4 separate regions of the Homo sapiens genome follow, and all the other regions are linked to region 3. The links come from fine-mapping of genetic effects on gene expression. A gene starts in region 3. Each other region holds a variant in brackets. All regions are shown on one strand. Distances are from middle to middle.

Evidence for each region.
Region 1: its variant is fine-mapped to the expression of DECR1 in whole blood (INTERVAL, PIP above 0.99). The same link has a PIP of 0.9 or more in monocytes and neutrophils.
Region 2: its variant is fine-mapped to the expression of DECR1 in whole blood (INTERVAL, PIP above 0.99).
Region 4: its variant is fine-mapped to the expression of DECR1 in whole blood (INTERVAL, PIP above 0.99).

Annotation. Positions count from the first base shown.
Region 1 is chr8:90,123,051-90,128,318 of GRCh38, forward strand. No RefSeq gene overlaps it. Among named protein-coding and RNA genes, the nearest start is that of CALB1, 43 kb to the left of the region's middle. The variant C/T (reference allele first, on the strand shown) is at 2,959.
Region 2 is chr8:89,968,218-89,973,217 of GRCh38, forward strand. NBN (nibrin) reads right to left here. Exons shown (of 16, transcript NM_002485.5): 6 at 2,956-3,073; 7 at 2,147-2,340. Among named protein-coding and RNA genes, the nearest start is that of NBN, 14 kb to the right of the region's middle. The variant A/G (reference allele first, on the strand shown) is at 2,807.
Region 3 is chr8:89,999,120-90,004,387 of GRCh38, forward strand. It overlaps DECR1 (2,4-dienoyl-CoA reductase 1), which reads left to right and starts at 2,358. Exons shown (of 10, transcript NM_001359.2): 1 at 2,358-2,442. The coding sequence starts at 2,374. RefSeq lists enhancers at 1,702-1,996, 2,845-2,984 and a silencer at 2,275-2,374.
Region 4 is chr8:89,938,750-89,943,749 of GRCh38, forward strand. It overlaps NBN (nibrin), which reads right to left. Exons shown (of 16, transcript NM_002485.5): 14 at 4,504-4,617. Among named protein-coding and RNA genes, the nearest start is that of OSGIN2, 39 kb to the left of the region's middle. The variant C/T (reference allele first, on the strand shown) is at 2,107.

The DNA.
Region 1 (5,268 bases), 120 kb after region 3:
TGATTTGAAGTGCCACATTTATAATACAAAGGTTTTCATACATTTATGGATCTCTATTTTATCTTTTACATCTATTTGTCTTTTTCTGTGCCAATGACATATTGTTTTAATCACTATAGCTTTTTATAAATCTTGCTGTTCAGTAGAACAAATTCTCACTTATTTTTCTTTGTCTACAGTGTCTTGGTCATTCTCACAAATACATTCTTCCTTAGGAAATTAATAATCAGTTTGGTAAGTTCCATTCTCCCCATTATTTCTATAGGGAACTACAGTGCATTAAATTTATAAATTATGTTGGAAAAAACTGACATCTTTACAAAATTGAGTCTTCCCATCTAAGAATCCGTATGTCATGAACTTTATTTAGAAAGTCTTTTTATGCCCTTCAGTAAACTTTTATAGTGTTCTTCACAGAGATTTTATAGTGGTATAGTTTTTTTTTAGGTTCATGTTTAGGAATAATATAGTTTTTATTTTTTATAGGACTATGAATAGGGCTGTTCCATTCAAACATCTGATTATTGCTAACGGGATTTACTAATTTTGTGTACTAATATTGTAATTTAGTCATCTACTACGCTTTGTTATTGCTAAGTTCTTCATTTGGTGCTCTCAATTTTCTTGGATAGATAATTATATCATTTGCAAATCCTGATAATTTGCTTGCTTGCTTTCCTATATTTACCTCTCTTCTTTTTCTTGACTCATTGTGTTGACTGGAAACTTCAGAGCAATGTCAGGTAATGGAAGTGACAGCAAATATTCTCGTTTTCTCTTTGACTTGAATAGAAGTGCCTCATTTTCACCATTAGAGATGATGATGCTTTCTTTTTTCTGTTAGTCTGAATCACTTTAAGGAAGCTCTATTCATAATACAGGGATAGATATATTTTATGACTTTCTATCATCTATAGAAACAAATGTATGGTTTTAATCTATTGACATATCAATATAACAAACTAAAGTATTAGATTTCCTAAATTGTGTAATCCTTGTTTTCTTGGAATAAAGTCAGCTTGGTCATGTGGTAATAGGTTTTTGATATAATTTTGGATTTGATTTTCTAGCATTTTCATTAGAATGATTTTCATTGCACTCTCAAATGATATCACTTTATAGTTAGTGTGTGAGTGCATGCTTACACGTAGACATGCAAATTTGACTAGTTTTTAGAATTAAGGTTATAGTAGTTTCATAAAATTAATGAAGTCTTCTTGGTTTGCTGCTGTATGGGAAAGGCAGATCTTTGATAATATTCTCCTTTATTCAAGTCATTATATCAAACTTGCCATTTGTTACTCACATCTCCTTTCTCTATCAAATTCTCAGGGAGGTCTGCCAAAATTTCCAGTTGTGCTTGTGGTTTTCTTTCTTGCATTGATTATAGTTTTTTCTTATAAATTTTGACTAATTGTTTGGAGCAGAAGTGTAATCTCAGCTTGGCTTGCAGGATTTCAAGGGCAAGTCATTTCTAGGAAGTGTAGGTAGCGGCATGGGGAATTGGTAAAGAGAAGGTAGGAAAGCCAGTAAAGGATGCGTTAGCAAGCATTTGTCATTTTGAGCAACTGCAGCTTAATCACTCTGGGACAGTTGTGGGAGCCAGTGTAGAAAACACATTTCAGAGTTATACTGTCCAAAGAATGAGAGAGCTGGTGGATTTACGGACCTTCTCTTATTATTTAACTTGTTGAAGGCTACCAGGGGTAGGGCCTGCTTCATCTGTAGTCTGAATGGGCTCTGGCAGAGAAAGATAGCATTAATTTTTTTTTTTTTTAATTTCAGTTGAAGTCAGGCCCACATAGGGGAGAAACAACATCTGCTACCAGCTTTCACAATTTTAATAGGTTTGTAATGCTTTGTACTTATAATTCATTCATTCGTTTCTTGAGTAAATGTTCACTTTCACTCAAGAGTGATAGTTTGACATATCATACATAATTCTAGGATCATAATCCTTTTCTTGAAGAATTTCTCAAGTTTTGATTCATAAACTTGGTTTTCAGAGCAATACTCTTTCTGCTAATCATTGCTTCTATTGATTTATCTAATCTGTCAATCAATTTTCTAATTATTAAAAAGTGTTCTCCTTTTGCGCTCTTTTGTAGCAGTTTACTCTCAAAAAAGCAATATTATTTTTTTCAAATCTCATTGAGAATTCTAATTAGAACTTTTTTAAAGTTCTGTCCTGTTTCCAGAATTAGCATATTCACTAGTAGTTATTTCTTCTGATCACCCAGTGTGGTCAATTTCTTTTTTTGCCTTCTGTATTTTCCCCCCACATTTTTGGGAAACTTCTGTTGTCTGGTCATTATTAATAATGATTAAAACGATGAATTTAGATTAATTGATAATAAATGTTGGCAGGCATGCTGTCCCTTGGCAGCTATGTGGATTAGTAGTTATAGACTGTGTGTTTTCAAAGAGAATAAGATTTTTTAAAATTGTGCAGACATAATATTGTCAATTTTTAAATTTGCAGTATAAGTTAATTGAGAAGCTTCTATCTACTATTATCACAGATTTATAAAAGAAAGAACATCTTAATTTCTCTGAAGTAGGAAAATATAAAGTACAGTCTTAAATAGAAATCTGGCGGTATACATATGTAAGGGCAATGATCTTTATTTTCTCACTTCCATACAGATTAATGGCAGCTTTTTCTCTTGTGGGCATTGGGAGACAATGTAGTCTAATTTTTGCCCTCGGCCTCATCTTACACTTGCCCACTTCAAGAGTAGTTGTGGATATTTTCAGGTGGCAAAACTCCACTTTATTTTGTGTGCTGTCCATACCAAGGGACCCCTGAGTGCAAACACTGTGGCCACACCCTTTATCTAAGGGGCCCTGGTGGGTGTCCTGAAATCCTTCAATTTAGTCTCTCCAGTTGCATCCCAAAGCCAGTTTTGGTCAGGAAAAGTACTCTCTTGACTTCATAATTTTTTTCTGCAGTCTCTT[C/T]CATCAGCTAGGGAATACTACCCTTGAAAATGTTTTCCATTTCCCTTTTGTGACTCAGCCTTAGGCTTATAAGTGACAGTTTACTCTCTAGGTTCGGTCAAATATTTATTGCTCTTTGTTAATAGTTTTTAGAGTTGTCACATGAATGGGGCCTTTCTTGGCTTTAGCATTGTTGAAAGAATATTAGGTTCCCTTTGTTTATTTTGGTGGATATTGTTGAGGTGTTTTTACATCCTGTAGCCACTTTTACAAGTTACCTAGATTTGGCCTTCACAGTTACCACGAATGAATGTAGTAGATATTTTAGGTAATCAGTAGGAAAGAAAAGAGAAAGGAAACTTACTGTTATTGAATTACTACTGGGCACAGGAACTGTTAGAATTTTTAATTCTTCTGAAACTCTGTAAGGTAGTCATTGTTGAGGTAGGAATTATTACCTTTGACAGAGGGAGAAATAGTGGCTCAGAATGTTTAAGTACCTTGTTTGTCATGTAGTTAATTAGAGGCAGAACTTGGATAGAACATAGGTCTGTCTGGCTCCTCAATCCATATATTTTTTCAATACTTCACTACTTTTTCTAATGAATTTATTGAGCAGCCCTAATTCTTTACTGCATATTTAATGAGGACCCAGCCAAATAATTATTAATGACTTACTTGAAAGCTATTTTTTAAATAAGGTTTGGCTATCTTAGGTTCTTAATCAGAAATACTGATCAAATTTTTTCTTTCATTACAGCTCCTAGCACAATAATGATTTAAAACCAATGGGATGTTTTCAGTTATTTTTAAAAAAAATTCATGGAAACTGTAAGCTCTGTTCTTAGAAAAATTTACATACACACAAAATTTTATCCATACTTTCAGGGACTTCAGGAATTCAGGATGTCTGTCAATGTATCCCAGGATAAAATCTTGTCTTAGAAGAAAGGGATGGTCACATTTGGTCAGTTTTTTTTGTATGACATAATGTCGACCTTGAGACTAAATGTTTAATGATATATAAGGCTCTTTCTGAATTTAAGAGAAGATATTCTTGGATCCTGGTAGCTAACAGAAAATGTAACTTTCAAGACCTTTTTTTTTTTTAAATACAGTACATAATATGTTCTGTCTTTTGGAGACAAACTGTGTGTGTGTGTGTATGTGTGTAAAACATTTTTCATATATTTATAATATTTTATCAAATTTATTTTTTTACTCTTTTTTACTCTTACTTGGGTTCTCCAAGCTGAATACCTGGCCTTTCCTTAAGGCTTTATCTCCTGGGCCTTATTGGTCCTGAATGTTTACATGTTAAATGATAGTTGAATTTGAAGACCATGCAGATAGTTCATTGTGATTCAATAATTTATTTGCTAGTTTGTCTCCCTATTTGGAGAAGAATGTCAGAAAGCCAATCCTTGCACATTGTTTCTCATGGAATGAAATAGTCTGATATTTTTTATGCATGTATCTGGATTTGTAAAAACTATTGTGTAGGATTTGTAAAACAAACTCTCTTCAGACTGTTTTTGGCTATGTGATGAAAAAAATTATTATTTGTTTTAATGGATAAGAATAATGTTTTGATCTTTATTCTATTAATTTGTGAGTCAGGTTATATAGGCCATGATTGACATATTGTTCTTGATTAAAATTCCTTTAACACATTGAAATATTTCAATGTATGCTGATGATAGTATGTTAATGTAACATTGATAAGTTATTGGATAAATTCATTTTTTCACTATTTCTTTGAATGTCAAGCAGTACTTTCAATGGATAGTGGCCACACATAACTGATGTACTTAAGAATTTATGAAATCAGGCTCTGCAGCCCAATCTGAGGTGAGATGTAGGGAAGTTGGACAAGGGACTGAATTTATGTGATGTAAAAACATGACCCACCATAAGCCAGAATGTTGTTCTGACTTTTGTTTAGACTGAACAATATTTTAAACATTATAGGAATTTGTTCTGAACCTGTAAAAGTTGGGTGGTTTTATAGAAAATTCAGGTTTTGCCTTTCATTGGAGAATCAGAAGATCTGACGTCACTAGGCTCAAATTCAGTAGCAGAGTGAATGTAGTTTCCTTTTTGCCCTCCTAATAAAGAGACTGAATTTCAGTTGCCATATATTATTGCATTTGTATTGTCATGTTCTTTTGCAGAAAGAAAGATGATTTCTTTTACAAATACCTTATCAAAGAGAGAAAACAAATAATAATCTAAGAGGAGAGCATATGGCAGAGAGCATATTTCTTTCCAAAAGTGAAGATTATTCCTATCTGTTTAATATACAAAATGTGTTTTTTTTTTAAAAATACA
Region 2 (5,000 bases), 31 kb before region 3:
CATTGCACTCCAGCCTGGAGTGAAACCATGTCTCAACATCCCCCCACCAAAAACCCAAAAAACCATATTGTAACAGGGGCCAAGTGTCACCTCATGATCAAGGCACCAGGGTCTGAGCTACCTGGTACTCCAGCTACTTTTTTTTAACCTCAGGGTGTCAATATGTGCTGAAAGTAAAGAGCCTGGACTCCAGAATCCAACTGCCTGGGCTCACATCCTGGCCACCCTGCTCACTGCCTCTGCTATATGCAAACCCCCTTCTGCCTCAGTTCCCTCATCTGCACAGTGAGGACCACAACAGTAAATAATATATAGGTTGAGGATTAAATGTTTATACATACATAAATTCTTAGACCAGAACCTGCTATGTAGGATAATTTTTTTTTTAATGTATTACTGCTGTTGCTCTGCTTGGCACATTCTTTGTCTGGCTCTTTGAAAAACTGGTCATAGGTAAGACATTGCCTAAAAGAGGCCTTCTCTGTTTAGAATAAGCTTCTTCCCCACTGCCGGGTTACTGCTTCCTTTATATACATGTGTAATGATTTGTTTACTTGTCTTTCTCTGTCTCTGCCTCTAGACAGTAAGCTCCAGTGATGGCAGGGACTGTGACTATCTTGTTTTTCATTATATTTCCAGTGCCTAAAACACAATGGAACTACAGTAAATTTGTGTTGTAGTAATAAGATAGTATTTTTGTTATATAGTATATCTTCTTTTTTACAGTAGTTAATATATCTCAATTAAGTAAAATATTTATAGGATAGATGACTAAAATTTTACTTTTTATTTCAGCAAGCCTGTAAGAGAAAAAAAGAAAATCCCCCCATGGTCAGAAGGACTCCTGGGACAGGAAGAATGAATCTTTGGTAGGAAGCTGGCTGTGGACTTTTCAGGCATATAAACACTTTAGTCCTCACCTACTTTTTGCCACATGAAGAGCAATTTAGTCAGAAGACTGCCAAGCCATATATTTCTACAATACTTACTGGCTTCAACAATGCTAAGATTATTAATGCAAATTAAAGTCTAAGAAAAATCCTTCAGTTAGCTCTTTTACAGTCTCCCTCCACTCTACAAACATCATTTCAACCTATCTGACTTTTTGTCTGCTTTCCCATAATAGCCTATATAAGGATAGGAATGTTTATATGTCTTTCTAATGGGTAATAACCATCAAAGGGCAAATACATTTCAACGCTAGGCAATTGCAGAAAACCTTTTACCGTTGAGTTTTAAGTTTCTCAAATGCAACATATTCTGTAAAAAAACTTAACACTACTTTGTTAATTTACAGAGGTAAATTCTACAAATTCTATTAAAGTAACAAAAAAGCATAAAATATTTTTGAGTAAAACTGTCATGAATAAAGATATTCTATATCTAATATACCAAGTCACAATTAATTTTCAAGTATACTACACTATAAAACCTTTTATTAATTCTTGTATCGGCCGGGCGCAGTAGCTCACGCCTGTAATCCCAGCACTTTGGGAGGCCGAGGTGGGTGGATCATCTCAGGATGGGAGTTTGAGACCAGGCTGGCCAACATGTTGAAACCCCATCTCTACTAAAAATACAAAAATTAGCTGGGTGTGGTGGTGCACACCTGTAGTCCCAGCTACTAGAGTGGCTGAGGCAGAGGATCGTTTGAACCCAGAAGGCAGAGGTTGCAGTGAGCTAAGATTGTGCCACTGCACTCCAGCCTGGACAACAGAGCAAGACCCTGTCTCAAAAAAATAAAAAATAGGCCAGGCACGGTGGCTCATACCTGTAATCCCAGCACTTTGGGAGACTGAGGCAGGAGGATCACCTGAGGTCAGGAGTTCAAGACCAGCCTGGCCTACATGGCAAAACCCTGTCTCTACTAAAAGTACAAAAATTAGCTGGGTGTGGTGGTGGGTGCCTATAATCGCAGCTACTCAGGAGACTAAGGCAGGAGAATTGCTTGAACCCAGAAGGCAGAAGTTGCAGTGAGCCGAGATCGTGCCACTGCACTCCAGCCTGGGCAACAAGAGCAAGACTCCGTCTCAAAAAAAAAAAATTCTTGTATCTACTTTTACATTGTTAGGTGAAAAGCAACAAAAAAGGTTAAACATAAAATCTCCTACTTGCAGTTTTTTACTAATAAAGAATAATTCTATACCTTTGGAGCATATCCATTATTGACTGAATCCATTTCTTCTGACAGTCAGGAATTAAGGTCTGTGAGTTTGTTATTCCTGTATCAACAACACACGTTCCCGGAGCCAAAAAGAAATTATGTTCTTCTTCATTCTCTTCTGTTATCAACCTAGCTTCCCCACCTCCAAAGACAACTGCGGAACTCAATTTCTTATGCTAAAAATGGAAGGAAACATTTTTTAAAGTAAAATGTAGTAATTTTTTGAACACATAAGAATTTGATTTGGGAAACATAGAAGTACAATTCAAGAAGACTTGGTGCTACTTCTTGAGTAGGTCATTTCAGCTTCCACTTTGAGAAAGTCCCTAGTTCAACAGGTCTCTGCGGCCCTGGAACTGTTACACTCTCTGTGGTTCCTCATCACACTTCCTAACAGCACTCTAACTGTGGGCTTATCTGCATTTCTCCACTACAACATAAACTCTTGGAAACCCCACTTTGGTACACAGAACATATTCAACTGATTTAACTTCTTTAGTGAGCTTACTAACTAAAGAGGTTTAGCTTACTAACTAAAGAAGTTAAAACTAAGTTTCCTGTCCTTCTCACTTGCATATTTATGAATAGGCCAGTTATCACAGATTTTAAGAAACCCCGTAATCACAGCCATGATCACTGGGC[A/G]GGTCTGGTGCCTGGGGTTTTTTTATTCTACTTCACACTTTTACACAAAATCCCAAAATGAAATACGTTAACAACTACTGATAAGAGTTAATAATGTATCCTAGTTTGTAATGTATTCTTTAGGAAAATTTAGCTTATAACATAATTACCTGTTTGGCATTCAAAAATATAAATGTTTTCCCTTTGAAGATTTGTTTTCTTTCCTGCCGTCCTGACAGATCAACATTTTTACTTCCAATAGATGGTTCATCAAGAGGTGGGTAAAAACTGTAAAAATAATTAAAGTATATTCTAATTATATACTACTATGTTTGCTATTAAATTGTAAACGGAGTGACTATCTGACACTCAAAAGGCATAATTTCCATAATACCTTTATAGTATTTTTTTTAAGTAAGAATTTTATCTGGGACAAAATGACAAAAAGCATCTAATCGCGTTTTCTAGAAATATGGTGGCAGGTGACACAAAGAAGAGCTAGAATTGATCATTAATATCTCAAAATAAATAATCCAAGGTAGACAATCATAACAGGATGAACATTAAACACACATGACTCAAACAAGGTGTCTGAATTACAAAAGTTTGAGAGAAACATCATCCATAAAGATCAAATTCTATTAGCATCTTGTGTTTACTTAGGAGCCAATATCTATTAAAACGCTCATGTTTCAATTCTACTAGCACAATCTATTATGAGTGTTTTGTTAGAGATCTCTTTGGAGAAGTTCAGGAAATTTTTAAACTTACATTATTTACTCAGTTCAAATAAAATTTCCAAAACAAGACTAAAGAATATAATGTTTTAGCTCTTTAATTTAATGCTATAAGAACATCTTAATCATCCATGAAAATAAAGGAAAATAAGAAATGGAGAAATATCAACAGATAATTCTTAAGCCTCTCATCAGTCTAGAGTTTCAACTTCCTGTATAATCAGATCTTTTGCTACAGCTGTTCATAACTGACCGGCATTTCGACTTGTCTCTCTTCCTTTCAGTAAAAATTACTAACCCATGATGATGATGATAAGGGGACAATGTAGGGAGGGAGAAATTCACAACCTGGACAATCAGTCACAAATCAAGAGTTAACTATCTGCAGAGATCAACATCCAACGTGGTAAAAACACTGCAGTCATTAAGAGTCACTATCCAGCACTTTAGAACTAATTACCTTACATCTTTCCCCTGGACTTCTCCTTGGAAACATACATATTTCATAAAGTAAAGCTAAGTTATGATTGAAGAGTTACAATACTTTAAAATTTTTTTGATAACTGATGCATGTATTTTAATTTCACTACAATAGATGCTGTAAGTCTGTTTTAAAGCAATGATTTCTGGAAGCTGCAATCTCAAATGAGTTATCTGCAGGCAAGAGCAGACTCACTTGGCAGGACAGAATGCAGGCAACTGCGTTAGTTATGGTTTTTCTAAACAACCGACTTTAAAATTCTATTTATTTTACTTTTAAAATATACAGAGAACAGTGGAAACTATTTTAACTGTTAACAAAAACTAAATCTACAATAAGAGCACTGGAAAGTTAGTAGACATTCGGACACATAAAAAGGATCAATTTTAATATCTCTTTGAATCCTTTTTATCCTTTATCTCCTAATAAATATTCCCCCATAACTTATACTTCTTTCTTAGTGTAAAAGCCAACTAACACTTTACTTATATACAAATAACTAGTTTACCAATTAGTTCACACAATAATGTAACAACACTAGGACAGATTACAGAGCCAGTTACAGACAAAAACAGTAAGGAAATGTTTAACACATATGACTGTGTGTTACAGTCAAACATGACTATAAAACTATGACTGAGTAGATGTGAGATTCTTCCTGCTTTCCCAAAACACTAAAGTTGAATGATTTTTAAATTATCTACAGCTTTCTATTATTCACACTGTCATTCTTAATTATGCCATAGATAACAGTTTACAGTAGCCAGGGAGCAGCTAACTGTAGCTTAGTTCGATGAAGTTTGAGCCAGGTTCCTAAACATATGTGTATGGTAGCCTGTTAGGCCTCTCTAATGGCTCTACCAGAGTTCTAACTTTATTAGTGTCATTCTTTAACAGCTGGCTTCTCCACTAAGTGCCATGAGGGCAGAAACTGTAACTTTTTTTGGCTCATCATTATATCCACAAGTCTATCTTGCCTGCTTCACTGTAGGCATTC
Region 3 (5,268 bases):
GTGATTGTCCTTAAAAGATGGGCTGGGGCCTCCCTGAGGTACAGAATTGTCCTTGCTGGCTTGATGTAGTAAGCAGTCTGCTGAGGAAGCCCACATGGGAAGGGATGGAGGTGACTTCTAGAAGCTGAAGGCAACTCCAGCCAACATCCAGCAAAAATGTGGGGCTGTCAGTTATATGGTTATGAGGAAAATAATTCTGCAAACAATCTGGATGAGCTTGGGATCAGATCTTCTCCAGCTGAGCCTCCAGATAAAAACAGCCTAGTTGACACCTTGATTGCAGTCTTCTGAGACCCAGAGCCAAGGATCCAGCTAAGCTGTGCCTAGACTCCTAACTCCTGGGAACTGTGAGATAATAAATGATTAATTGTTTTAAGTTACTTATTGTGTTACTCCATTCTCACAATGCTATAAAGAAATACCTCATACTGAGTAATTTATAAAGAAACGAAGTTTAATTGACTCACAGTTCTGCAGGCTATATAGGAAGCATGACTTGAGAGGCCTCAGGAAACTTACAATCATGGTGGAAGATGAAGGGGAAGCAGGCTGTCTTACACAGCTGGAGCAGGAGGAAGAGAGAGGGTGGGAGGTGCCACACACTTTTAAACAACCAGATCTCCTGAGAACTCTATCAGGAGAATAGCACCAAAGGAAGAAATCTGTCCCCGTGATCCAATCACCTCCTACCAGGCCCCAATTCCAACACTGGAGATTACAATTCAACATGAGATTTGGGTAGGGACACAAATCCAAACCGTATCACTAATGTTGCAACTTCTTTTTAGAAACAAGATGAATCCCACTTACAATTTGGTTTGGAAGTCAAGAATAACAGTGCCATACATATATCAAGAGCTTAGGAAAAGTTTTATTATTGATATATTCTCAAGGTTTTTTTGGGAGGACAGAAAATGCCTCCTAAGCTGGTCTAAAAGTTATTTAAGAGGGCAAGTGTTCTGGGCTGAATTGTGTACTTCCCTCTTCTCCCAGCCAAATATATACATTGAACTCTTAACCCCCAGTATGTCAGAATGTGGCTATATTTGGAGATAGAGTCTTTAGGGAGGTAATTCCAGTTAAATTAGGTCATTGAGGGTGGGCCTTAATCCAACACGACTGGTGTCCTCATAAGAAGAGGCAATTTAGATATGGAAAGGTACACAGGAGGATCATGTAAAGACACAGGGAGAAGATGGTCCCACAGTGGCTCCACAAGAAACCAACTCTGCTGACTTGTGGCCTCCAGAATTGTGAGAAAACAAATTTCCATTTAAGCCACCCAATCTGTGGTAGTTTTGTTCCTGGACCAAACTGAGGGTCAGGCTGCTATTTCTTGCTGCCAATAATGAGATGTCGATGAACTGGGGATGAAGAAAGTTTTTATTTCTGTAACCAGTTACAGGCAGAAGGCCTGGAAATTATCACCAGACCAACTCAAAATTACAAAGTTTTTCAGAGTTTATATACCTTATAAGCTATATGTCTACATGTAAGTGTACATTCCTCTGAAGATATAAATGTTTCTTTATCAGCATTTGGAACATGCCAGGCAAATAGTAAACACTCAATATCATCTACCATCAGCCTCAGCCTGGGGCCTCACACCCATCTTCTTTTATCTAAAATTCTGAATTAGCTATGAATATTCTCATTTTACGAATGAGGAAAGAAATGTGATCTGAGCTAATGCCTTGTGTCAACAGGTATATTACACTAAGATGGAGAATGATATACTGAATCTGTGTTTGCCTTTAACGTGTGTTTAACTTCGAGAAAAAAGCCAAGGCTGGGCGGTCGCAGTCACGCTGCATCCGGCGACAGGGGGCGGTGTGTCCTGCGAAAAGTCAAAACGCCGGAAGCTGCCCTTAGTGTTTTTCAGCCTCTTGGTCTTAGGGAAAGTGAGGCCGTGTTTTACATCCAACATATTATTATTCTGATAATATGTGACTTGGCGCCACGCGCACTCTGCACTTAAACACGCACTTAAGGGATAAACACATACGACTGAAAAAGAGTTTCGCCCTTGATAGGCAGTGTATGGGGTGCGCAGCTGCAATCTGCAAACCCTTGCAGGGCGCGGGGTTTCGTACACCCGCTCAAGGACGCAAAGAACCTCCATTCTCTGCCATACAAAGCACTCCTGGCCCAGAGAGCAGGAAAGAGCATCAGCTAGGCCCAGCTAGGCGGCGCCCTCGGCCGGACTCTGAAGGTCAGGGCCGCTGGGCGTCCACGCCGCCTGGGTCCCAGTCCCCGTCCCATCCCCCGGCGGCCTAGGCAGCGTTTCCAGCCCCGAGAACTTTGTTCTTTTTGTCCCGCCCCCTGCGCCCAACCGCCTGCGCCGCCTTCCGGCCCGAGTTCTGGAGACTCAACATGAAGCTACCGGCCAGGGTTTTCTTTACTCTGGGGTCCCGGCTGCCCTGTGGCCTCGCTCCTCGGAGGGTAAGGCGGCCGGGGGCGCGGGGAGCGAGGACAGGGCGTCTCGACGCGCAAAGAGAGAGGACAGGGCGTCACGGGGGCTCGGGGAGCGAGGACAAGGCATCCTGGGGCGCAAAGAGAGAGGACAGGGCGTCCCGGGGGTTCGGGGAGCGAGGACAGGGCATCCCGAGGCGCAGAGAGAGAGAGGACAGGGCGTCCCGGGGCCTCGGGGAGCGAGGACAGGGTGTCCCGGGGCTCAAAGAGAGAGGACAGGGCGTTCTGGAGCGCTAAGAGAGCACAGAGCAACCCGGGGAGCGAGAGAGAGGACAGGACGTCTCGGGGCGCAAGAGAAAGGGCAGGAAGTCTTGGGGCACAAAGAGAGGACCCGGCGTCCCTGGGGCTCAGGGAGCTAGGACAGGGCGTTTTGGGGCGCAGAGAGAGAGGACCACCAGGTCCCGGAGCGAAGGGCAACGCCGGGAGTGAGCACCGGGGCCCGGGTCGTATTCCACTGTCAGATGAAGCCCTGATGTGTGTAGGGGAATAGGGAAGAGACGTGATTTTCGAAGTTTTCACAGTTCTGCAAGTTTCCAACTTGTGTGTAAATAGGTAGAAAGAGGTAGGGAAGGATACGGCGCCCGTCCACCCCTTAAGGAGTGAGAGGGGATCAGGCCGAGCGAGCACTGACCTTTGACGTCCTTTGTTGTGAGGAAAGTCCATCTATGTGTTAGTTATGGAATTAAACACTAATACAAACAAATTATCATAAAAATGAAACAAAAACAAAACCCCAGCTGTTTATAGACTCCCCTTCCCAGATGTATAGCTGGGAGAGGTCCGTCTCACACTGGCTTCCCCCTCTCTCTGGCCCACACTCCTGTCACCATCTCCATTGCACCCATAGTGGAAATAGCTAGGAAGTGAAAACAGCTAGGAAGAAGAAAGAGAAACAAAAACAAAAAGAAGCAATAATATCCAAGACAAGCCCTCCCCACATCTAAATTACAAAATTGTTATAAGTAAACTAAAAAGCACATTTTCTTTAGCCAGGTAGAAAAATTAATATGTCAACTGTGAAAAAACTTCTTTTGATTTGATAGAATAGACAGCCATGGTGTTGTTTTTCAAAAAATATGGGCAGCAGTAGTTCCAAATAGGAATACAAAGAATTAGTATGGTGGTTCCCTCAAGTAAGGTATCTTTCTTTTAAAAAGTGAGATTTGTTCAGGGTTAGGGTTTTGCTGATTTTTTTTCTCTCCCTGTGAAAACTGGGTTATAGATCATTATAAAGGAAGCCCATATTTTCTGATACTTTTCAGAGACATTTCTCATTTGAAATCTACAACAGCTCTGTGATGTCTTCAGAGATTTCATTTTTTAACACACATCATTAGGATTGTAGCAATAAGGTCATACAGACCTTATCCAAGCTCTTCTGACACCATTAGACAATACAGTTTGAGAAGGAGAAAATGAACTCATTTAAAAATTAATTGTAATCTGACAATTTTGAAATTCCTTTGCTGAAGAAAAATATGGAAGTTTTGAGGTTCAGGGTTGGGAGGCAAGAGAGGTACCTGTTAGTGTGGTTTGTCCCCTTCCTAGCACATGTAGCCTCAAGTTTGAATTCCTGGGAGAAGAAAAGTCTTTACATCTGTGATGTGGGAGGTTGTTCCAGGGAACATCATGTTTTTGTGGGCAAATACAAGTTGTTATAATTAAAACCCCTAATTTGAATATTTTTGTTACCAAGAACCAAGGCAAATGTTTAATTTGTTATAAAACCTGTTTGTGAAGTGCTGTGTTAAATTGTGCTGCTGGCTAATAGGCCTCATTTCAATTTAATAAATATTTATTGAGGACTGGCTTTATGTCTGGCCCTGTGCTATGCCCTGGGACTCAAAATTTAAAAAATACGAGCCCTGCTCTCAACTGTTCTCAAGTTGCTCTCAGTTCTATTGAGGAAAACATTCAGTCATTCAGTTGTTTATGAGGAAACACTAATTAATTAAGTACCTATTAAGTATTGGGCATTCTTTGGCAATTTGTGGTTGAAAGACATTCCTGCCTTCAATGTACTATAGTCTCATATATGTATTTTAAGCCACAAATAATAACCAATGAGTAGGCCTTGAAATCAATTTAGTGGAGCAAAACAGCACTTTGGGAGGCTGAGGCGGGTGGATCATTAGATCAAGAGATCAAGACTATCCTGGCCAACATGGTGAAACCCTGTCTCTAGTAAAAATACAAAAATTACTGGGTGTGGTTTCACACGCCTGTAGTCCCAGCTACTTGGGAGGCTGAGGCAGGAGAATCGCTTTAACCTGGGAGGCAGAGGTTGCAGTGAGCTGAGGTCGCGCCACTGTAGTCCAACCTGGCGATAGAGTGAGTGAGACTCCATCTCAAAAACAAAAAAATGGAATAGAATAGGATATATCTAAATTCATCTCATGTAGTAAGGTTGTTCATTTTGTGAAACTTTAAAAAAAAAATTTACCATTCTTCCTTTTTTGATTCATTCTTTGATTACTATCATGCACACTGCCATGTTTCTTTTCCTTTTGTTTTTATCAAGAGTAATAACTATCCAACCTGATCAACATGGTGAAACCCTGTCTCTACTGAAAATATAAAAATTAGCCGGGCGTGGTGGCGCGTGCCTGTAATCCCAGCTACTCAGGAGGCTGAGGCAGGAGCTACTCAGGAGGCTGAGGCAGGAGAATCACTTGAACCTAGGAGGCAGAGGTTGCAGTGAGCCAAGATCACGCCATTGCACTCCAGCCTGGGCAACAAAGTGAGATTCTATCTCAAAAAGAAAAAAAAAAAAAAGAATAGTAACTATCAAGAGTA
Region 4 (5,000 bases), 61 kb before region 3:
ATATAGTGAAACAAAATTACATCTTATCTTTTCATATTTTCTAATAGGGATAGCAAAACATAAATGGGAAGACATCATTTTAATAAAACAGCTGTCAAAATAACTACTGGCAACATTTTTCTAAACATTCTTAGAGGTTGCCTGGGGAATAAAGTTGTAGCATAGTAAGGAAAAACCACTGAGGAGAAAGCAGTTTTATTTCATATATTTCAGTAAAAACATATAAAATAGTATTAAGAAACAGAAATGCCTCATATTACTGGCATTTTTCAGAGGTCTGAGATAACTACTACTCACAGTCTTTCAAATTCAAATCAGGTTGGATACAGTTCAAATAATTTTTATGTTTGATGTACACAATGAAAATATCCTAAATTCAAGGGAACTTCAGGAACTGACGCAGTGATTATGAAAATCAAGACTGGTGGGTCTGCAGCAGAGGTAGAGAAAGAAGGGATGAAAAAGAAAAATAGGGAGGGAATATAGAAAAAGAATAGCTGCAGCAAACAGGGAAATGAGATGGCAGTACAGAACATTTACATAAATAAGCAGTAGCCATGCAGCAAAAGCAAGTCAAGTCTGTTATAGAGTAAGTCCTACCAATAGCAACTAAAATGATTCTAGCAAAAAGAGAAGTGATTTGGTGAAATCATCTAGAACACAGTCCATCTAATTCCTAATGAAATAAGCAAAAAAAAAATAGAAAAAAGTCAGCAGCTGTATGATGTATCATCATTCTCTCAACTTCTCCCATCTAAAATTAATCAAACAAAACTCGACAGTGTTAATTAATCAAGGAGAAGAGTTTAAGCCATGCCATACGCTTAAAAAGTGCAGCTGTAAAAAGAACCAAATGATTCTGATGCAGCTGATTCCTAATACTGTCTCAATCCATTAAAAGTGCTACACAACTGGTCAAACCTGAGGATTCTTACTAATGCCCCAAATTTGGGGAAAAGGTAACCTGAACAGGGAAAACAACTGCCAGTGGGCTGCTGGGAAGGGACTAATGGTGTAGAAGGTAAAGAAGCAGGGCTGACACTGACCAAACACATAGGCTCCAAGGATCCCTAACAAATTAGGTAAACAACCTAATAATGCTAGGTTATTCTCTTTTATATAGGGCACACTCCCTGGTATAGGACATTTAATTAAAATCCCAGGAGACAGCTAGCCCAAGCTGCACACAGCTCCAGCTGAGCCTTTCCTCTCCCAGATTCAATGTCTTCAGACAACAGAAACTAGATGGGATATGCCATGTGCCACTGACTGTTTCAGCATAATGCCATACTGACAGTGAGGCATGAGGGAATTCTGTTCTTTAATTTTTATTTTATTTATTATTATTATTTTTGAGATGTGGCCTTGCTCTGTCACCAAGGCTGAAGTGCAGGGGCTCAATCATGGCTCACTGCAACCTTAACCTCCCAGGCTCAAGCAATCTTCCCACCTCAGCCTCCTGAGTAGCTGGGACTATGGGCACATGCACTACCATGACCCGCTAATTTGTTGTGTTTTTTTGTTTGTTTGTTTAATTTTCATTTATTTATTTTTTTGTAGAGACAGGGTCTCAAGATGTTGTGCAGGCTACTCTTAACTCCCGGGTTCAAGTGATCCTCCTGCTCCCAAAGTGCTGGGGTTATAGTCATGAGCCACACCATTGTGCCTGGCTGAATTCTGTTCTTATGGGCAAGACAAGAATGTTAGAAGTAATTTTGATTATACTGAATTTCTGTCTCACAAACTGGCTTCTGAATGTAATCCCTGCATGAGATGGCATATGATCCTTTATGTAGCAAACAGAATATCTGGAAAAGACATTTCCCTTTACTCAAGTGAAGGCAAAAAACAGAAAAGCTACTCCATCTACTAGAGGAAAAAAAAAAAAAGGGATATTGGAACAGAACATGCAAAAAACAGATAAAGAACCTAATCTGCAGGAAATAATAATCCACGAATAAAAAGTAAAATAGAAACATGAAAGCAATGAAATAATGACAAAAAATCAGATAATAGAACAATGAAATGAAAAAAGAACAAATGCTAAGTAAAAGAACCATAATAACAGCCTTTCAGAATTAAATTAGAAATAGCTAACACTTCCCA[C/T]TGTTATAAATGATTTATATGTAGTATCTGATTTAATCCTCATATGTCTGTGAAATAAAGGTACTATTATTATTCTCATTCTGCACAGATGGAAGCAGAGACATTAAGTAATTTGCCTAAGGTCACATACTTGGTGAGAAACATTATAGACACACCTGAAATGTAAAATTTTGATACAGTGAAAGAGCCTAAGAAAACCACAGTGAATGCAGAAAAAATAGATGTGGACGACAAAGGTAATCCAATGAAAGGATAGTTATGTCTTAAATGTCTTATAGAGAGCCCAGCAAATATAAAATATTTAAAATATATAATAGAAAAAAGTTCCTTGAGAAAGAGAATTACACCTGCAAATCAAAACAGCATACTATATGTCAGGAAAAACTAATGGAGAATGATCAACACTGAGATGTATTCTGAGTGTTACTGGCTTTCGAGCTTAAGAAAGATGACTGGTCATGCATGCAAGTCACCTAAAAAGGGAAAAACAGGACTGGCATAAGGTAAGGGAGGCTAGGTGGGAGGAAGTACTAATAATGTCCTCACTTTTCACTGTAGCGAGCCAACAAATAATTGTATGTGAAGTTAATATGAAGTTTAAAACTACCCATTCCGACTTACAGTGATTTTTATAGTTTTCCTCCTTAATATTAGACAGATCTCACAAAATAAAATATCTTGGAGGGAAGAAACATTTATAGAAATTCAGCAATGCCTTCAGTTTAACTTCCTCCTATCAATGTCTCTCTCTTCCTTCCCAGTCTGTCCCTGCCTCTCACTACTCCTCAATGAAGAGATGTCTGGAATATTGTTCACTTAACTGTTTAAATAGGTAATTTCTGGGCTTTAGGTTTTCACATCTTCATTCTTTGTGTACTGCCATAATTCTGTGGAATGCACATGTTACAAAATAAGCCAATTATTCTTTCAAAAAAGAAAAGGAGAAAGGATGTGATTTCCATTCTTTCATTTTTTAAAAATAAGTATCCTGAGTGACCTTAACAACTCTACTTTCATAAGTGACTTTCCTAAATAACCCTTATTTTAAAATAACTGAGAAAAAAGCACTTTTAAAAGTGAATTACACTATACCCACTATAAAGCAAAATAAGGAACCCTGAGAGGTTAGCAAGGACCACAGTCAGCTTTTGCCTTGCCCTATGAGTATCTGCAAGTCATGAAAAACCTGAACTCTGCTTTAATGTCTATACGGGGTATGAGTGATACGAAAGAAAACCCAAGATGTTGACTTTAATAAAAGACCCAGCACTAAAAGAAGAAAGAGAAATAAACCTTACAACACAGAAGGAGCTAGGAAAGAAACTTGCCCATCTTCATTCTGGCACTTAGTGAAGGAAATAAATAAAAATCTCATTTGAAGTTTCTAATGATAAGCCAGCCTTCATTCACTCCAGCTTCTGGTCCAAATATTAATACATACTAACTGTCTGGGTGATTCAAAGAATCACAAGGAGAGATTTTAATTTGAAGTGGTCTCATATTGGTAGAAGACTCGAAGATAGAAAACGTATCTTTTCTAGAGGAAATACATCTGAACTTAATACTCAAGAAAACCCTACAGATCGAGTTACAAAGAAAACAATCAGCTCATATTCAAAAATCACAAAGCACAAACTTGAAAACAAGGTACATAAGAGCAGAAAACAGATCAAACATTTTAGGTAATGGTATCATTAGGCAAATAATATAAAAGGGGAAGCTTGAAAAACAGCAAGGAACAAGAAGATTTAGAAAGAAATAAAACAGACTTCCAGTAATGAAAAAATAAATGAACGGATGCAATGCCAACTAGAGTTGAAGACAGTAGTAGTAAATCGGAAGATGATCTGCAGCAGTTGCCAAAAATATAACCCAGGGAAACAAAGAAATGAAATACACAGGAAAGACAAATGGAAAAGAAAATTTAACTTACGTTAAGTTGGAATTCCAGAAGGAGATAATGGGGAAAACAGTAAAAAGGTAACTAATATTCAAGAGAATGAATAAGAAATTTTCAGAATTGTTAAAACACAATCCCCAGATTTAAAAAGGCCAGTCCCTTGACATACATTTAAGTGATATATTTGTAATATCCTCCACATTCTTTTAGTTTCCCTTAAATTTTTGTGGCTTTTATCTCCCCCTTTTCATTAGGATGTAAACTGAATTTCTTAGGTCTCACCTTTTTTTTTTTTTTTAACAAAAATAAATTTAGTATTCTTTTAAAGAAGTGTTATGGAAGGGTATAGATTAATGCTCTGTAACTCAGGAATGCTCCTGAATGAATGACTTTATGTCACTTATTTTAATTTGGTTTTAAGAAGAATTTGCTTGAAGGCCACCATAATGGACCAAAGTGCAATTTAAGCAAGTTTCTGGGCCTCACTTCCTACTAACCTCCATTTCCTGCCTTAGCCACTCTTCTAGTTCTGTATTCTTTCGAGCATGATGAGCTATTAGATCTGATCCTCCAATGATGTGTGGAAGTTTTCCTGCTCCAGGATATGTGACCTATTGAATAATAAAAGTAGTACAGTAAATCATATTAACAAACAAAAATGACCATTTTTTTAAAAAGATTAAAAAGCAAAGATGGTAAATCATGCATAAGTGCCAAAGATGTTTATATTCTACAAATAAAAGTGAGAGCAGTAACTCTGTTCTAAACCCATCTGTTTTTGCCCTTCTTTTATAGCTATTACTATATACAGATCTGGACATGTCATGGGATTTATGTATTAAAAATAATTTAACACTTTTCATTTGGAGTTTTTATTTTAAAATGGCCTTACCTTATCATTTAACAATTAAAGCAACTCAAGATGAACACAAACACTACAATTCAAAGCACTGTATTTTGTTCTAATGACTTCAAAGCTTAAGCCCTTTCTAAT